Regions from separate parts of the Homo sapiens genome. Here region 1 is linked to region 2. The links come from fine-mapping of genetic effects on gene expression. A gene starts in region 2. The other region holds a variant in brackets. All regions are shown on one strand. Distances are from middle to middle. Region 1 overlaps LAMP2 (lysosomal associated membrane protein 2). Region 2 holds the start of LAMP2 (lysosomal associated membrane protein 2).

Evidence for each region.
Region 1: its variant is fine-mapped to the expression of LAMP2 in whole blood (TOPMed, PIP above 0.99).

Annotation. Positions count from the first base shown.
Region 1 is chrX:120,432,589-120,441,604 of GRCh38, forward strand. All of the region lies in intron 8 of LAMP2 (lysosomal associated membrane protein 2), which reads right to left. Among named protein-coding and RNA genes, the nearest start is that of LAMP2, 32 kb to the right of the region's middle. The variant T/C (reference allele first, on the strand shown) is at 5,098.
Region 2 is chrX:120,464,614-120,475,190 of GRCh38, forward strand. LAMP2 (lysosomal associated membrane protein 2) reads right to left here and starts at 4,683. Exons shown (of 9, transcript NM_002294.3): 1 at 4,493-4,683. The coding sequence starts at 4,556. RefSeq lists a silencer at 4,621-4,885.

The DNA.
Region 1 (9,016 bases), 33 kb before region 2:
CAAAATTGACCAAACGGATGTAGGGGGTGTACGAGGAGGAGATAATAGAATGGTTTCCAATTCCACACTTGACTGATTATGTAGATGCTGGTGCCATTCTATAAAAGAGGAAGAATATATGCATTTCAGTTTTTTGTAGTTATATGGAACAGGTGGTAAAAAGGATACGTGGAAGAGAGAGATGCTCAGTTTTAGATATGTGAGTTTAAGATATCTGTGTCCTTAGTTGAGCATGGTAGCTTACGCCTGTAGTCCTAGCTACTTGGGAAGCTGAGATGGGAGAACTGTTTGAGCCCAGGAGTTCAAGACCAGCCTGGGCAGCATATCGAGAACCCATCTCAAAAAAAAAAAAAAAATCACTATGTCCTAACCAAGTGGCTATATGAACCTAAGTGGTAGTTAAAACATGGGCAAGAACATTTCTCAGTAAGGGGAAGTAGAATAAAAAGAGGATCAGAGACAAAAACCCTTGGGAACACCAATACCTGTGGGATAGACAATGGAGTAGGAAAAAGATGTAAAAGGGCAGATAGAAAATGGCGCCAGAGAAGCTAAGGATGGAACGTTTCAATTAAGGTGGAAAGACAGCAAATAATAGTAGAAAGCTTTGAAACATGTCCATTGCCTCTAGCAATATGAAGGGTGGGAGATATGAGTAAAATTGCTGCAGGTTTAAGAGGGAATGGGAAGTGATTGGTTAGGACATCAAGAACTTGGGCAGGGTAACAAATACAATACTCATTTTGAGAAGTTTAGAATGATTAAGGCAGGACAAAAGGGAGGTAATTAGAAGGGGGACATAGGGACAAGAAAGGATAGCTTAAGGTTAGAAGAACTTAAATAGGATGAGGGAAACAGCCATTAGCAATTGACAGAAGATGCTGAATGGTACAAGTTCTCCTACAAGTTAAGAGATTGAATTCCAAAAGCGTAAGACATTAAGAACTCAATACATAACAATCTGGGGTCACTTAGTAATGGGAAAAGAGATATAAATGGGCCTTGATGACATAACTGTTTGCCTCAGTTTAACCAGGAAAAGAAAACCTACTCTGAGACTGGAGAGGAGGAAGGAATGCTACAGATGGATACACTTGCAGGAAAGAAGTTAACTGCTATTTCTATTTCCCATTTCCTGTGTCTTGTTGCCCTAGTTCTCTGCCTAGCTTGCAGTCTACCAGGGACTGATAAATCAGATAACTAAGCTTATTAGAATTGTATCAAAGATAGGACAAATAGGCTGCATGGCAATTCTGATTGTGCTTGCATTCAAGAAATGTGCCAAGCTTTCCCCGCCGCCCCCACTAGCCTCTGGGGCAATAACTAGGAACAAAATGCAACCCTGGAGTTTATAAACTTTTCTGACATTGACTTGGGCTGCCAGTTCAATTATTTGTTTTACTTGCTTCTTGGTTCTGTTAAGAATCCAGAGAGCTGAGGCTGCCAGATGTGACCTGTGAATAGATGGTGTTAAGAATCCCCAGTTAGCACCTCCCCTACAATTTCCCAAATTACCACCCAGCCCATAAACTATTAGGTGACATGTACCATAAAGTATTATGCCGTGGGTTTAATATAACTTGGTTTTTTAAAAATTCATTAGTAGATTAATTTCTTATTCTGGCAACAGACTCATAGTTCTCTCTTTCCCAAATTGGGTATTTGACCTAGTACTGAAACGACTTTCATAAATACTGCCAATAAGGCTTTCATGTAAGACAAATATTCTCAGAGTAGCTCAAAAAGGCAATTCCGCTAATACAAAGATCTTTCTAGATACTGTCATTTACTTAAAATGCTCTCAATTAGTATGTGAAATATTAATTTATAATAACTATTGATTGTATGAATTCAACCTTTAAAAATTATTTAGTTAATGGAAAAAATGTTGGTAAAACAGTAACTTTAATGGGATCACATTCTGAAGAAAAGAAAATCTCATCCTATAAGTCATTTTGATCTGATCTACTTGCCTAATGTATACTTAACGCTGTATTGAAAATGCTTCTGGGGAAAAGAGAAGTGTATTTGCAGAAGAATTTAATAGCCACAGAAGCAATAAAGATTTTTAAAGATTAAAAAGTTCCATGGCCACTAAAATTTCAGTAAGAAGTTTCATGTAGATTAAAAATGCTGTTAATCTTCAATTTTCTGCCAGTTCAGACATTTTTCAAACACAATTTTCAACACAAGAACTGGAAAGCTGAGGTATACATTTACAACAAAAACTAATAAAACTTCTCTTAAAAACCAGTTGAGGCCAGGCACAGCGTTTCATGCCTATAATAACAGCAGTTCAGGAGGTCGAGGTAGGCAGATCACTTGAGGTCAGGAATTCGAGACCAGCCTGGCCAACATGGCAAAACCCCATCTCTACTAAAAAAATAAAAAGGTAGCCAGGTGTGGTGGCACTCGTCTGTAATCCCAGCTACTTGGGAGGCTGAGGCATAAGAATTGCTTGAACCTGGGAGGCGGAGGTTGCAGTGAGCTGAGATCACACCACTATACACACCCAAGCCTGGGCAACAGAGCGAGACTCCATCTCAAACAAAACAAAACAAACAAACAAACGAGTCAAAACTTCTTTTTGGAAGGATCCACATTAAGAAGCACATTCTTAGGTGATATTTTGTTATATACATTTTATATCTATAATCAAACTGTGTTAAGTAAATCACATGCATCTGAAAAGATTCGTGAAGCTACTCAATATCATTCATGAATATCTATACCAGTTTCAAATACAAGAAATGGTGATTATTAACGCAGAAAGTTAGCTACCAGGGTAAAAGAAAAGGAGATGGGTGGAAGATGAGCCCAAGACAATTTAACATTATCTACCTAAATAAACAGATGAAATACTATCATCTTAAAAATGTCCAAGTCTTATAAGAATTCCTCCTGAAAAACTGCAGGAAACTTAAGTGGTACATTTTACACTGAACTTATAGTATGTTCTTGATACGTAACAAGTAGCTTATCAGATTCCTTCTAAAATACTAAGATGTATGAAATACTATGATGCATTCCTCTGAAATGCAAATTATCACTCAAAGAAATGAGTAGCAGGATTTTAAAGCCCCCACCCACTGGATGAAGAAATTGAGACACTAGAAGTTAAACAACTTGGCCAAAGACAATGGTAGTTAACTGCAGAGTTTGCAGCCGTGATGACTAACTGGCATTCACATGGCTTAACTGGGTAATTCAGAGAAAAGTTACCAGCTACATTGCTAAGTTTTCTTATGTGATATAGTAAGGTGACTAGGTAACTATCCGTATATGGAAACTGGAAGGCTCAAGTATTTTAGAGTGATCTAAGTAAGAGAGAGACTGCACACAATCCTACGTTGGTTCAGATCAATAGCTCAATATGTATGGCTGCAATGTAAAGCTACTATGTAGAGATATTGAATATCAACCTCAACTTAGGAATTGAGAAAAGTGTACAAAGAGATACTCCGCAGCTTTTATTATGAAATAAATATTCTAGATCACTGGTTCCCTAACTGACTATGCATCAGGTTCAGCAGGGGAGCTTACACACACACACACACACACACACACACACACACACACACACTCTCTCTCTCTCTCTCTGTCTCTCTCTCTCTCTGTCTCCTCATTAGACCTACTACGTTAAATCCTCTAAGGATGCAGCCTGGAATCTATTTTTATAAAACGCTTCCCAGGTTGATCTTATTCTGTAGCCTGCCTAGCATCAATCGAGGCCTATGTATGGGACTATTCTTCCAGATGGTAATATACAGACAGAACATCAGAACATTTTGCAAATAATTCAGTTCTACTTCTAAACATTTCTAAAGTTTTTCCATTTGAAAGAAATTGCCATTATGTAGTATACAAAATCTTGACTTTAACCAACGGGAAAAAAGGTAAGCAAATTGCCTTAAGAAATAAAAGAATCTTTATTGTTTTAGAAGCAATTTTGAGCAAACAGACAGGCAAATATCTAAAGATACCATACATCAACTAGTGGTTTAAACATTTGAAGAAAAAACATGGAAAGTATTTACATGGACCAGTTTCTTTATACAAATGCTAAAACATGAAAAACACCCAAAACCAGATAGAGCGTTACCATCAAGGTATGAATCTAGTAATACAAATAAAACTACAAAAGGTACAAAGAACATGTAGCTATAGGAAATAATAGTGTAAATAGCAGTATATAAACTGGCCCATGTAAAATACAAAAATATTCACTGAAGTCAGGTTTTCTATAAAACAGTGTTTATTAGAGGTATTTTACTATGAATCAGGCATATAATCTGAATGTAGAAACTTTTAGAAATATTAACAGCATTCAGTCAGTGCCATGCACTTGTGCTTCCAATTATTTTTTTAAAGCTGCTTTGTTTTGACTCATGTGAAATAGTTAAGGCCTACATTCTTATACACATTATCCATCTTACAAGGTTAACAATTTTACACTAAAACACAGTTTAAATTAAAAACGATTTTGAAAAATTACATCTATATTTAATCCCTAAGAAGTGTTTTAAGCTGGTAATGCAGCTCGCTGTAGCTCTAAGAGAGGGGTTAGTCAGGAATCTGATCTTGAGCCATAAAGGTTTTCAGGCTAAACAAAGAACAAATTTAAGTGACGGAAAATATTTATAATTCCAATATAACTCAGTTATATTGTTATAAAAATACCCATGCTAGCATGCAACTGCCTATATATGTGTGCATATATATATATATGTCTGTGTGTGTGTATTGATCCATTCAATGTCAATATTTTGGAACCCAGACAATTTTCTCATTTTCTAGTGAATGGGAGGCACATAATCCCACCACAAAAAAAAAAAAAACACGAAAAAACAACCCCACAGGAACCTTCCATATATGGCTGCATATTAACAATTTTAATATTTGCTCAGCCATTCCAACACACACCAAAAAAGTTCTCCTAGAAGCAGCAAGAAATATTTGATGTGTTAACTACCAAGCTGATGTATTTTGCTTTCTCCTATAAACATTAGGTGGTACACGGTAATTTGACAATTGGTACATCTCTCAGACCACAAAACTGAACACAAAGCACGTGAATTAAAAATGATTCTACCATAA[T/C]GAATAATAACAACGAAAGTTTTGATTAGCACAGAACCATTTAAATGTGAAAGCCAAATTAGTGATGTTGTAGCAATCAATGCAAGCTGGAAACAAAGAACAACTTTTTAATGGATTAAGATAAAACCAAGACTTTTTGGTTAGATGCAAGTTTTGTTTGTTTGTTTGTTTTGTTTTGTTTTGTTTTGAGATGGAGTTTCGTTTTTGTCGCCCAGGCTGGAGTGCAATGGTGCGCTCTTGGCTCACCGCAACCTCTGCCTCCCGGGTTCAAGTGATTCTCCTGCCTCAGCCTCCCGAGTAACTGGGATTACAGGCGCCCACCACCACGCCCAGCTAATTTTTTGTATTTCTGATAGAGATGGGGTTTCACCATGTTGGCCAGGCTGGTCTCAAACTCCTGGCCTCAAGTGATCCACCCACTTCGGCCTCCCAAAGTGCTGGGATTACAGGCGTGAGCCGCCACGCCCAGCCTAGATGCAAGTTATTTTATAAGTGTAAGTGCACTTCGTTATCTAGGTTCTAGGACACACTGGCATTTCTTAAGAAAAAGAAAATAATAAAATACATCACTATCAACAAGAAATGTTGGAAGGCTAAAGAGAAATCTGCATTAATTTTAGTACTGCATACAGAGGCCAATTTATGAGCACAAAGTACTAATGCCCTCAATTGGCACTGGCAAGCAATTATCTCTAAAGCACCTAAAAAATGGATTGAAATGCCCAGTTGGAATAGTCTTATATATTGCAATTTAAAAGATTGAAATATCCAGTTTTTTTAAAAAAAAGATTAAACAATAAGATTAATACCTACTCTAAATTTTAAAAAGCTTTTGTATCTTTTGTCATTACAGCCACATAAATACAAATGTATTCAAAAGGCATTAGAAAAGCATTTATTGCTAAGAACATAATAATACCAGCCCCTGTTCAAATCTACTATTATATCTCTCAAAGGTCAAATATGCAGCAATGCCAAAGTAGCTAAGTTAACCTGCAAACAAAAATCACACACACACACACACACACACACACACACACACACACAAAAAGAGCAAAAGGAGCAAGTACAAATCCACGGTAGAACATGTTGTTCCAACTCAACTACCTGCAGGGAAAAAAAATCTCTTTTTCAAAAATTGTTTTTTCTAAACGGTGTATTTTTAGTCTGAATGTCTAAAATGAAAACACTGAAATACTAATTCAAGACAGTAAAATAGAACTTATAATCCAGTGATTTTGCACATCTTTTGCTGTAAAAATAACAGTTTTAAATTCCTTGGTTGGAAAAACCAAAGTCAGGCAACTAATTTGTAGTTGATAGTTTTTTGTTTAAGTTTGAAATCCCCCATACCACCCATTCTAAAGAGCTGGACTGCAACTAAATATACCTTAAGTTGACCAGTATTGCATGTTGGAACTTGTACTTGCTTTTTTCTTTTGTAACAGAGATCACGTATTGATTAGTGTTACAGAGTCTGATATCCAGCATAACTTTTTCTTCTGCCAATTACGTAAGCAATCACTATAACGATAATCAAGCCTGAAAGACCAGCACCAACTATAATTGGGATTAGAATGGTGTCATCATCCAGCGAACACTCTTGGGCTGTAGGTGAGAAAAAGTGTGTAATAAATAATGAGTATAATCACAAAAGAATGTCTCGAAGTCAAAGATGTTGATTTAAAAGTCAGAAATGTTCTTACAAGATCAACTTCAAGTAACTAAGACAGGTATATTTTTATGATAAAGCTATAGAAAATGGAGAACTGTTCTAGAATTAAAATTCTAAGACTTTCTTTGTCCTTTCATTTGTTTATGTGTATATATGCAGATATTCATATATATGAATACATGTATATTCATTTACATCTATAAACACAGCTCATATTGTAATGTGCATATATTATATGCACATTGTATATGTGTGCATATATATAATATATGCACATTATATATGATATATAATGCACACATTATATATATGATATATATTTTATATGTGATATATATGTGTGCATATACATATACATACACACATATATGTTTGTTTATATTCCAAGTCCTTTCCAAAATAGGCATATTACTTTATCAGAAATAAAGGGAGCTAATCTAGCCCACTTTTACATAGCCAGATTAGCCTCTCAGTGGTAGAGTGAATGTCTTTTGGGAAAGTGGAAACAGGATCAGGAAGGTATCATGTGATGAGAATAGCCAGGCTGGCTCTGTCTTTAGGGTCAGGGGTCAGCAAGCTGTAGCCCATGGGCCAGATCTGGTCCAAGAGCTAAAAATGGCCTTTACATTTTTAAATGGTTGAAAAAAATATTTTGTGACACATGAGAGCATATAAAATTCAAATTCCAGTGTCCATAAATAAGGTTTTATTGGAACCCAGCCACAGTCATCTGTTTATGTGTTGCTGTTTTCGTGCTACAATAGCAGGGTCAAATAGTTGTGACAGAGACCATATGGCACCAAAGCCTAAAACACTCACTGTTTGGAACTTTAAAGTTTGCAGATCGTGACTTAGTACATACAATTTTAGTGGCTGCAAAGTCAAGAAAACTGGGACCTCTTACTAATTTGAGCGTGCTTACTGCATTTCTTATCTGGTCAGGGTTGGCAGCCTAAGGGGGCTATTTTTTTCTACTTCTAGAAAGTGGTCTGATCCAGTAAAATCCAATCAACACTCTTCTGCCTTATTGCAATTCTATTTCTTTCCCCATACAGTCAAATATTACCTATGTGTTGTATTTATAGGTACCCACAGCCAAGAACCTAGTTCCACAAATAGATTATACATTCAATATCAGTATTAAATGCTGTATATCTCTTTGGGTGATATTTTTAATTCTATGTACATAAAAACCAAAGTTTCAAAGTAAGAGAAAGAGCACAGCTCATCTCTATTACAGGTGACTAGATAAACAGTCTTGAAGTGATGATACTAATACTGCAAACGATTTTAAACTGTAAACACAAATCTGGACTTAAAATTAGGGGAATAATGAAGGGGAGCCAGATAAAAAGTCCAAAAATAAAGCTACTAAAGGATCAAAATAATTGAAGTACATAAGCAAAACAGACAAAAGGGAAAATGAATTCTTGAAAATATTTTTAAAGTGTAACTAACGTCTTTAATCGCAAGAATGGTAGGGTGGAGAGCCCAATTTATTGTGGCCTAACCAAGTCAGACTAGGTATTCAACACCACTGCAAAAGTAGTCGAATGGCTCACAGTATATTCGCTTTTAAACACAGCTTCCACATTTCCTTCCAAACCATAGAATTAATGGTTGAAAAGGATGTGGATGCCTGGAATAGCTAGCTCTGCTCAACAGAGTTGTGATCCACAAACCCCCAATTTTAGGTAATAGGCTTAAAAGGACAAGTCAATTAAGGAATTTTATGTGCTTTTTTTCTTCATGCAAATTTTAATCTTGTAATGCCAAATATGTCTTTCATATTCGTATGAACACATTATAATGAGCCCTTCAAAAGGTTTCATTAAAAATCTAATAAATACCACCATTATCCCTGAGTGATCTTCAAAAAGCGTCATTCACACTGGCACATGCTTTGAAAACTCTCCAGATCGTTTTGGCTGGTAAAAACATAGTTCATGATATTTGAGGCTTTGCTACCGCTCTTTATCTTTTGTCTTAACAAAATCAGACCAAACTGCTTTCATTCAGGTATGAAAATGTTTCCAGTGAGAAGACGGCCTCAGGAAGCAGATGCAAGATGCTCAAAGCTGCTGCTCCCAAGTGCCATCTTCCCTACAAACTAAAACCCATACCTCAAATAAAGCTCACTTAAAGCTTCTATCAGTTTTAGCTTTAAGAACTTTTTTTGCAAATGATTTTAAGATCACAAAAACATCTCGGTTGAGCAAAATGATGAGCCAAATATAGAGTTGC
Region 2 (10,577 bases):
GGTCTCTGCCCAAATGTCACCCGATAACGGAAGGCCCTCTGACCACATAATATAAAGAAGGATCATCCACCATCACCCATTCCTATCATCTACTCATTCTCCTTTCTCATTACCTGTGTAATTTTCTTCATAGTGTTTTTGTTTTGTTTTGTTTTGAGACAGAGTTTTGCTCTTGTCCCCCAGGCTGGAGGACAGTGGCATGATCTCGGCTCACTGCAACTTCCACCTCCTGGATTCAAGCAATTCTCCTGCCTCAGCCTCCCGAGTAGCTGGGACTACAGGTGCTGGCCACCATGCCCTTGTATTTTTAGTAGAGATGGGGTTTCACCATGTTGGCTAGGCTGGTCTCGAACTCCTGACCTCAGGTGATTTGCCCACCTTGACCTCCCAAAGTGCTGGGATTACAGGCGTGAGCCACCATGCCCGGCCTCTTCATAGTGTTTATCACTATCTGACATTATATTATTTATCTGTTGAGCTTTCTTCTCCCATTAAAATGTAAGCTCCATGAGAGCAGGAACCTCATCTGTCTTATCCATTCCTCTGTCCCTTTCACCTAATATAGTGGCTGGGACACAATAGGCATTCAGTAAACGTGTGGAAGGGAGAGGCTCCTACCAGTAACATACACTAAGAATATTTCTGTGAGGTTTTTCCCACCCAGAAAAGCCTCAAACCTAAAAAAAAAAAATTCTGAACCCTAAAAAAACAAACAAACAAACCAAAAAACAGAAGTCAAGCTAGTTATAAGAATCAATAACCACAGAAGAATCCTGAAATCTATGATATCACAAAAGGACCATAATTAGGCAATTATATAAAGAAAGGATTTTCACCCACTATCCACTTTATAACACCTCTAAATCATATAGCTTCTCTTCGGAAAGTTGTCTGGTCAGTTACAATTCATCCAAATAAACACCAGCATAATTTAATCTCTATGAAAAAGACCAATATATAGCCTCTAAGAATCCTTTTCTGTACTTATTCTAAAGCTGCTGTTTTTAAAAGGTTATGGGTGAAGCTGGGATAGAGTTATAAAGTTACAAAGTCAAACTGGCACAGCTAGAGCACTAATGCTAATAAGACTATAAATTTAGGACAGGTCCTCCTTCATTGGCACTCCGTACAGTACCCAGGCACAGTTCTAGCTACATAGTAGGTACTTTACAAATATTTATTGATTTAGCTACATATTAGGTACTTTACAAATATTTATTAAGTTTTCAAAAACCTATTATTGGTATCCATTTTGATATAGAAAAGTAACTTGTGCAAAACCCACCAAGCAACTGCTAAATTCTTGACAGAAAAAGCTATATGGGAGGACTTTGGGCTCCACACTGAACCAAGAGCCATCAGAAAATGCAGCTGTATAGAAAAATGGTTTCTATTTCATCCTGGAACCTCTTAAAAATCAGATCTAGGTACATTATTAATATTTACTTTTCCAAATCCTGCTCTGAACTTGGAGGCGGAGGGAATCAATCTTGGAAATTTTCCAAGAGGAAGAATCTAGTTAGTCCTGATCAATAAATGGCAAACTAGCAGATGAGCTGATGGGTTCTTTTATGTGCTTCTTTTTGCATGTTTATTTTCTGCAGTGAGTAAGCATTGCTTTTGTAAAAACAAAACAAAAAAGCTTTCATTAAAAAACAAAAAAAAATTTAATGACATGAAAGCCAACAAGTAGGACAACTATTATTTTTTTCACTTTCCCAAAACAATAACAGTGTTGTATTTGTGCACAGATTCAATTGGCAGGGAACTACTGATTAACAGATGCCTTGGTCAGATGTGTTCTAGTCACTGATAAGGTACTTTCCATTGTAAACAATCCTTTCTTAGGGTCAGTTGGCCCTCAGTAAGTGCTCCAAGGTACAGTTAAGGCTTCCAATTAAGTATTCAAGCAAAGCCTGCCTCAAGGCCGCCTTTCAGAAGTGCTACAGAAGAGTTTCCTGCGCGCTGTGAACAGTTGGACTACATCAGGGATTCCCAAAGTTTTGGTGTCAGGACCCCTTTACTTTCTTATCCACTGAGGACTTCACAGAGGTTTATGTGAGTCATATGTATTGGTATTTACAGTATTAGAAATTAAAACTGAGAAATGAATAAAATATAAGAACATCAGAGTGGTGAGGTCATCACATGTTACGTAGCCACTGGAAAACTCTGCTGTACACTGGTGAGAGGATGAGAGTGAAAAGGACAAAGGACAAATAACTTCTTTTTTTTTTTTTTTTTTTGAGACAGAGTTTCGCTCATGTTGCCCAGGCTGGAATGCAGTGGCGCAATCTTGGCTCACCGCAACCTCCGCCTCCTGGGTTCAAGCGATTCTCCTGCCTCGGCCTCCCAAGTAGCTGGGATTACAGGCATGTGCCACGACACCGGCTAATTTTTCTATTTTTAGTAGAGACTGGGTTTCACCATGTTGGTCAGGCTGGTCTTGAACTCCTGATCTCAGGTGATCCGCCCGCCTCAGCCTCCCAAAGTGCTGGGATTACAGGCGTGAGCCACTGTGCCCAGCAGAAAAGGACAAATACCTTCTTAACCTTATTCCGAAGTTTTGATTTCACAGACGCATGAAAAGGTCCTCGAGAGTCACTGAATTAGATAATCAAGAACCCTTCCAATACTATGGTTTTCGAGCAGGATTTATCAATGTTGGCACCATTGACATTTTCAGGGAGATGATTCTTTGTTGTCAGGGGCTGCCCTGTGCTTAGTTAGGATGTTTAGCAGCATCCTTGGCCTCTACCCACTAGATGCTAAAAGCAATCCCCCAGTTGTTACAACCAAAAATGTCTCCAGATGTTGCCAAATGTCCCCTGGTTGAGAATCACTATTCCAGGGTGTTGATTTCATTCTACTGAAATGTGAATTACAAAATGTATACCTCTCACTGCTTTCTCAGACCCCTAATATGTCTATTTCTTCCCCACTCCCATCTGGGTCTGTTCTTTATGTTATTTTATTAAGTCACAAATAGCAAGAGCAGGTGGGTAGCAACAAGCACAGCATGAATCAAAGTCAGGAAGAGACACTTTAGTCAAAGTTCACTTTTAGGCATTAAAGTTGTTAGCGACCCACTGCCTATTAGGGCACAACACAATCAGCGAACATTCACCCAGCCATTTATTTATTGATTTATTTATTTTTATTTTTTGAGACAGAGTTTCACTCTTGTCGCCCAGGCTGGAGTGCAATGGCGCAATCTTGGCTCACTGCAACCTCCGCCTTCTGGGTTCAAGCGATTCTCCTGCCTCAGCCGCCCAAGCAGCTGGGATTACAGGCATGTGCCACGACGCCCGGCTAATTTTTGTATTTTTAGTAGAGACGGGGTTTCACCATGTTGGCCAGGCTGGTCTTGAATTCCTGACCTCAGGTGATACACCCACCTCGGCCTCCCAAAGTGCTGGGATTACAGGCATGAGCCACCACGCCCGGCCCCATCCAGCCATTCTTAGGCCCTGGTAACAACCCAATCCTTAGCAAGTTTGTCTACCTGCTCCCTGCACCCCCAAAATATGAGGTAATAGGCTAGCTGTGTGATGGGGAAGAAAGAAAAGAAGAAACTCTGAAGGCAAAGAGGTAGTCTACCAAACTCAAATACTCCACCCCCAAAACCTCACATCTGGGAGGCCCTCCTAACTGAAACGTCTGGGGATTTTTTTGTCAGCGTCTGGCTGGGAGGAAGTAGCAAAACTGGGAGAAAATCGACATCCTCAATACCTCCAAGTCAGATGTGCACTCCCCATCAAAGTTCCCCCTGAACCCCTTAGTCTCCAGAGGTTGGGTCCAAGTTTTCTTTCCTGGAAATTGCCCCAGCTACCTTAGGTTCCTTCGCCCTTAAAACTATGACTACCAAACTCAAACCCAGCATCACTCCTAATCTCTTGAATCATCCTTTCTTCACAGTCTCAAATTCCAACCTTCAAAATGCCCAACCCTGTCACTGCCCCTGCCCCTCAGGCTCTACTGTCCTATCTGTCCCATCTGTCCCCCACCCACACACTTCTCCCAAGCTACTCCAGGCAGGCATGGTCTTCTCTCTTAATTTCCTATCTCACCCCATAGTTTTTCCACCATCTTCAAAACTCTTCCCTGATCTCAGCAAACCAAGACTCTCCTAATTGTCTCTGGCGCCCAAAATCTGCATGTACCACCCTCCTACGCTCACTCCTCAGTGTTTTCCCCAAGTTACTCTTTCCACGCTGACCCTCTCCACGCTTCACTCCTCCCAGCCTACTCCCTCGGCGTCCACCCCCCGTTACCGGCCCCTTCTTACTCTCCTGGGCCCTTCTTCCCCGCCATCCGTCGGTCAGGCCTTCTCTAGGTCACCGCTTGCCTCCCCGGGCCAACCGCCGCCGCCCAGTGTTAGCTGCTGAGCCTCTCAACCCCCTCCCCCTCGGACCAGTCTTTCAGGTTGTAGCTTTGAACTGGTGCCCCGGGCCCAGGCGGACAGACTAATCGGGAGGGCCCGACAACTCACCCAGGACTAGGCAGACCAGAACGAGCCCTGAGCCCGGAACCGGGAAGAGGCGGAAGCACACCATGACCCCGCAGAGCAGGCGGCGACGGCGGCGACGGCGGCGGTACAACAACAGCTGCAACACCAGGGAAAAGGCTCGCTGGACCTGGGTCAAGAGCACTGATGACCACCGACCACAGCCTTGCAAAAGCCAGGAATCGGCGCTTCAGTGCGAGTCATAAGACTAGGGGCGGGGCTCTTTCTTGCTTACAGCCAATCTCCGCGCTTGAAAGCGGCGAGAGGGGTGGTGATGTAGCGGCCGGTGGGCGGGGCGACCACGCCCTGGCTTTTTGGTTCACAGCCCTTCCTATGCTCCTGAGAGATATGCGCGGACGGCATTTTCTTTTTCTTTTTCTTTCTTTTTTTTTTTTTTTTTTAATTTTACTTTAAGTTCTGGGATACATGTGCAGAATGTGCAGCTTTGTTACATAGGTATACATGTGCCATGGTGGTTTACTGCACCTATCAACCCGTCATCTAGGTTTTAAGCCCCACATGCATTAGGTATTTCTCCTAATGCTCTCCCTCCCCTTGGCCCCCACCCCTTGACAGGCCCCCGTGTGTGTTGTTCCCCTCCCTGTGTCCATGTGTTCTCATTGTTCAACTCCCACTTATGAGTGAGAACATGCAGTGTTTTGTTTTCTGTTCCTGTGTTAGTTTGCTAAGGATGATGGCTTCCAGCTTCATCCATGTCCCTGCAAAGGACATGATCTCATTTTTTTATGGCTGCATAGTATTCCATGGCATATATGTGCCACGTTTTCTTTATCTAGTCTATCATTGATGGGCATTTGGGTTGGTTCCAAGTCTTTGCTATTGTAAATAGTGCTGCAATAAACATACGTGTGCATGCGTCAAATGGTATTTCTGGTTCTAGATTTTTGAGGAATCGCCACACTGTCTGCCACAATAGTTGAACTAATTTACACTCCCACCAACAGTGTAAAAGCATTCCTATTTTTCCTCAGCCTCGCCAGCATCTATTGTTTCCTGATTTTTTAATAATCACCATTCTGACTGGCGTGAGATGGTATCTCATTGTGGTTTTGATTTGCCTTTCTCTAATGATCAGTGATAATGAGCTTTTTTTCATGTTTGTTGCTGCATAAATGTCTTTTTTTGAGAAGTGTCTGGTCATATCCTTTGCCCACTTTTTGATGGGGTTGTTTTTTTCTTGTAAATTTGTTTAAGGTCCTTGTAGATTCTGGATATTAGACCTTTGTCAGATGGGTAGATTGCAAAAATTTTCTCCCATTCTGCAGGTTGCCTGTTCACGCTAATGCTAATTTCTTTTGCTGTGCAGAAGTTCTTTTAATTAGATCCCATTTGTCAATTTTGACTTTTGTTGCGATTGCTTTTGGTGTTTTAGCCATGAGGTCTTTGCCCATGCCTATGGCGGACGGTATTTTCTAAGGCTAAGGAGAGAGGAGGAACTTTTGAGGGCCGTAGATAGTAGACTATTTCCGTTTTGGCTCCTTGACAAAGAAGAGAAAAATTTTGCGGGCACAAAAACGGTTGCTAGGCATCTCAAACGTAATACATACAAAAATAATACATGCTTATTCTCCAAACACTGTTGTTACCTATGCAGTTCATGCTGTGAGATGGACGAGGGAACCTAGGGGGTAGTATGGAGTCACGGACCATCGGAACAAGACATGATCTTGAAATTCACCTAGTTACAGCACCCTGTTCTCAGGTGGGGGAATTGAGCTCAGAAACAAGAAGCATCTTTTTTAAACACAGGAAGAAAAAAATGAGAGAAATAAAACAGAAGGATAAAGCGGAAAAATAGAGATCATCTGTATTCCTACTATTAACATTATTATATATATTTACACACATATATACACACACCCACATCTATACTTCCAGATATTTTTCCTATGTACATACACACAAATATTCTGTAATGAGTTCATACTAAGCATACTGTTTGCTATACTTGATAGATGAACAGACAAAACCTAAAATATTCAACAGATGAAAGCATTTAAAAATCTTGAGTTGGAATAAAGCACTGATTCTCAAGTGTTAGTTTCCAAAAGAACCATCTGGTTTTGGGTTTTTTTTTTTTAACATACAGATTCCTGTACCTCATTCCCCAGAGATTCTGAAACAGTAGGTCTGTGGCAGTCTTATTAATCACTTCTTTAACAAACACCCCAAGTGATTCTGATTCTGTGGTCCATGGACCACACTTTGAGAAAAACACTGAAAGAGAGCTTCAAAATCATCTAGTCCAGGAGATTTTAATCTGGAGTTTATGTATGAGTTTAGACAGGATGGGAGAGGTGTCGGTGAATCCTCAGAAATTACATGCAACATTTATGTATGTGTATTTTTGTGGGGAAGTTTGTAGTTTTCACTAGTTCTCCAATGGGACCTGTGACTCCTTGCCCTAACCCCTACCCTAATTCAAATATTAAGAAGCACCGATCTGCCCCACTATTGTTTGCTTTAATGTAATTAATTCCTGAAAGTGAGAACATTTGTCAATGAATGTTTACTACCATAGGTGAAACTAATTTGTGAACAAGTGACCCAACACAAGACTAATGAACACTGCATACAGTGTTAGTCATTGCCTTTAGCAAAATGTCTTTTGACTGCCATCAATGAGACTTGGCAGGAGCTATGTCCTGGGCATAGTAGTCTTCAGAGAACCCACAACTGAGTTGAGCCCTCTGAAGATGCCCCACCAATACTTCCTGGACTCTAGCTCTTCTCTTTCAATTGTAAATCGCATAACTTTAATGTTCAGTAAAACCCTAAGCTCTTTCTATAAGAAGAAACAAAAAAAGAACATAGTGGAAAGAACATTGGGTTAGCAGTCAGAGGAGTTGGTTGTGAGACACCACTTACTGGCAGTGTGATCTTAGGCAGGTCACTTCATCTGTTTGAACTTCTATATCTTTATTGGTAAAATGAAATAATGAGACTAGAGCTGTTTCTTGATCCTGGCTGCATGTTGGAATCACTTGTGGAGCTTTAAAAGTGGAAAATTCCCCTTGGTCCCATCCCTTGAGATTCTGATTCAGTTTATCTGAAGTCAGGCCTGGGCATGGTGTTTTTCTCAAAACTCCCCAAAACAATATTGGTGGGCCTCAGATGATCTCTAAGTTGGCATCAGGTTTATAATTCAAGGATTCTATGTGAGTAAATGCTCATTTATTTAAAATTGGCCAGGTGCAGTGGCTCAAACCTGTAATCCCAACACTTTGGGAAGCCAAAGCAGGCAGATTGCCTGAGCTCAGGAGTTTGAGACCAGTCTGACCAACATGGTGAAACCCCATCTCTACAAAAAATTAAAAATTAGCTGGGGGTGGTGGCGTGCACCTGTAGTCCCAGCTACTTGGGGGCTGAGGCAAGAGGATTGTTCAAGTCCAGGAGGTGGAGGCTGCAGTGAGCCATGTTTGCACCACTGCACTCCAGCCTGGGTGACAGAGCAAGACCCTGTCTCTGAAAATATATGTATATATTTATATATAAGGATAGCCAGCCATGGTGGTGCACACCTGTAGTCCCAGATACCAGGGAGGCTGAGATGGGAGGGTCGCTTGAGCCCAGGAGGTTGAGGCTGCAGTGCTCTTTGATGGCGCCACTGCACTCCAGCCTATGCAAATGAGTGAGACCCTGTCTCTAACAATTAAAATAAAATAAAATACTGTCCCAATTTGTCAAATATCTGGTGTAATAAATTGTCGCCCTTTATCTCTTGAAGGTGTCATCAAATTAAAAAAATAAACACAGTGAAATATGAGCAGCCTTACAAGCGAAATCCACCCTCACCCCCATCACAACCTTTTCCTCAGGCAAATACAAATGCTGGCTCCTTGACTGGGACAGGCATCGTCGTGAGACACAACAATGTTTTGAAAGTTGTAGATACATGCTGGGTATTTTGTCAGCATAAATAGGCTAAAAATTCTCAAGTCTTTGTTTGCACTGAGCTTCCATACTCAGAAATGTTTAATGTTTTCTCCAAAAAACACTGTGAGAAAGATCCCTTTTCTTATACAGTCTCCCATTACCCTGCCCCAGATTGAAGGAGCTTTTCCTTGGCTTTCGGTGGTAGATGCAGATGTATACGTGAGACTGGGGTTAGTGTTTGAGGAAATCTGTGAGATCCCCTCCGATCTAAGCTTCACAAAGGTTGACTTGATTGTTGGTACCGCTGTATCTAGGGTGCTTTTATGTGCGCTCCTGAATATACCTCATACCACCCCAGTGCACAAACTCCTCAGCAGTCCCCCCACACTGTCCCCTACCATCATAGGTAGATTAAGACTCTTTTCAGCACCTTTGAGAGTGCATGACTTTTTGGCCAAAGAGCAGGAAATCATTGGCAAACATTTCCCTACATGTCAACATACTGAATGGTGTAAGAAATGATGACCCTATCAGATTTGGTAAATGATAGACAATGAAATGTGGGGATGAGCAGAGGAAATGAACTTAAAGGTGCAGAAGTTTAGAATGGAAGAATAATAAATAGTTATTAAATAAATGGGCTGGGCACGGTGGCTCATGCCTGTAATCCCAGCACTTTGGGAGGCCAAGAGGGATGGATCACTTGAGATCAGGAGTTCAAGACCAGCCTGGCCAACATGGCGAAACCCCATCTCTAGCAAAAAGTACAAAAATTAGCTGGGTGTGGTGGCACATGCCTTTAAACCCAGCTACTCGGGAGGCTGAGGTTCAAAAATTGCTTGAACCAGGGAGGCGAAGTTTGCAGTGAGCCAAGATCGCGCCACTGCCCTCCAGCCTCGGTGACAAAGTGGGACCCTGTCTCAAAAAATAATAATAATAAATAATAAAAATAAATAAATGAGTGCCCCTGAGGTATTGGTGTCATCTATTTGCCACCAAAAATCTTTACTTTTTAAATTTGCATTATCTTTTTATCTGCCCCATTTTTCCTTTCCCTACTCATCCTTTTTTTAGTTTCTCCTACCCTCCCTCTTTTTCCTTTCTCCTTCTGGCATGTCCCTTTTTTCTGGATAATACCTTTAATATCTACTGTCTGGATGACAGTATGGTCATCGCTCAACCCCACAGCGAGGTCACAGTGGGCTCAAGGGGCTGCCAACTCTTCAGCCAGAGTTCTCTGGATAAATGGAAACATGCCATTTTGAGTTGTTTGTTCTCCTGGCCAGTAGTATTCTCAACCTCCCCTGCCAAAAGATCTGATCCAATCTGCTAAAACAAAATGGTTTATGCATCACAACCACTGGAGGGCTTATTAAAACACAGATTACTAGGCCCCACTGTGAAGTTCAACAGCTCCGGGATAGGACACAAGAATCTGCATTTCTAGCAACTTCCCTAGTGATCTGATGCTGCTGGTCTGGAGACCACATTCTGAGTAATGAGATCTCAAACTCTCAGCAGGGGCTCTCTGTCCTCTGGGGAATGGGGTTAAGAGATGAAGGAGGGCTGGGCATGGTGGCTTATGCCTGTAATCCTAGCACTTTGGGAGGCCAAGGAGGGTGGATCACCTGAGGTCAGGAGTTCAAGACCAGCCTGGCCAACATGGCGAAACCCTGTCTCTACTAAAAAAAAAAAAAAAATACAAAAATTAGCCTGGCGTGGTGGCAGGTGCCTGTAATCCCAGCTACTCAGGAGGCTGAGGCAGGAGAATTGCTTGAACCCGGGAGGCAGAGGTTGCAGTGAGCCGAGATTGTGCCATTGCACTCCAGCCTGGGAGACAGAGCAAGACTGCGTCTCAAAAAAAAAACAAAAACAAAAACAAAAGATGAAGGAGAAGAGATTTTTATTAATTTCTGCAGTAAAGTTGTACAACGAATGGATTTTTTTTGTAATAATGAGTTTTAAATTAATGTAAATTATTAAAAATCAAATCATTTAAAATGTTATGAGCCAGGTGCGGTGGCTTATGCCTGTAATCCCAGCACTTTAGGAGGCTGAGTCCGGCAGATCACCTGAGGTCAGGAGTTTGAGACCAGCCTGACCAACATGGTGCAACCCCGTCTCTACTAATAATACAATAATAATAATAATAATAAATAATAATACAAAAATT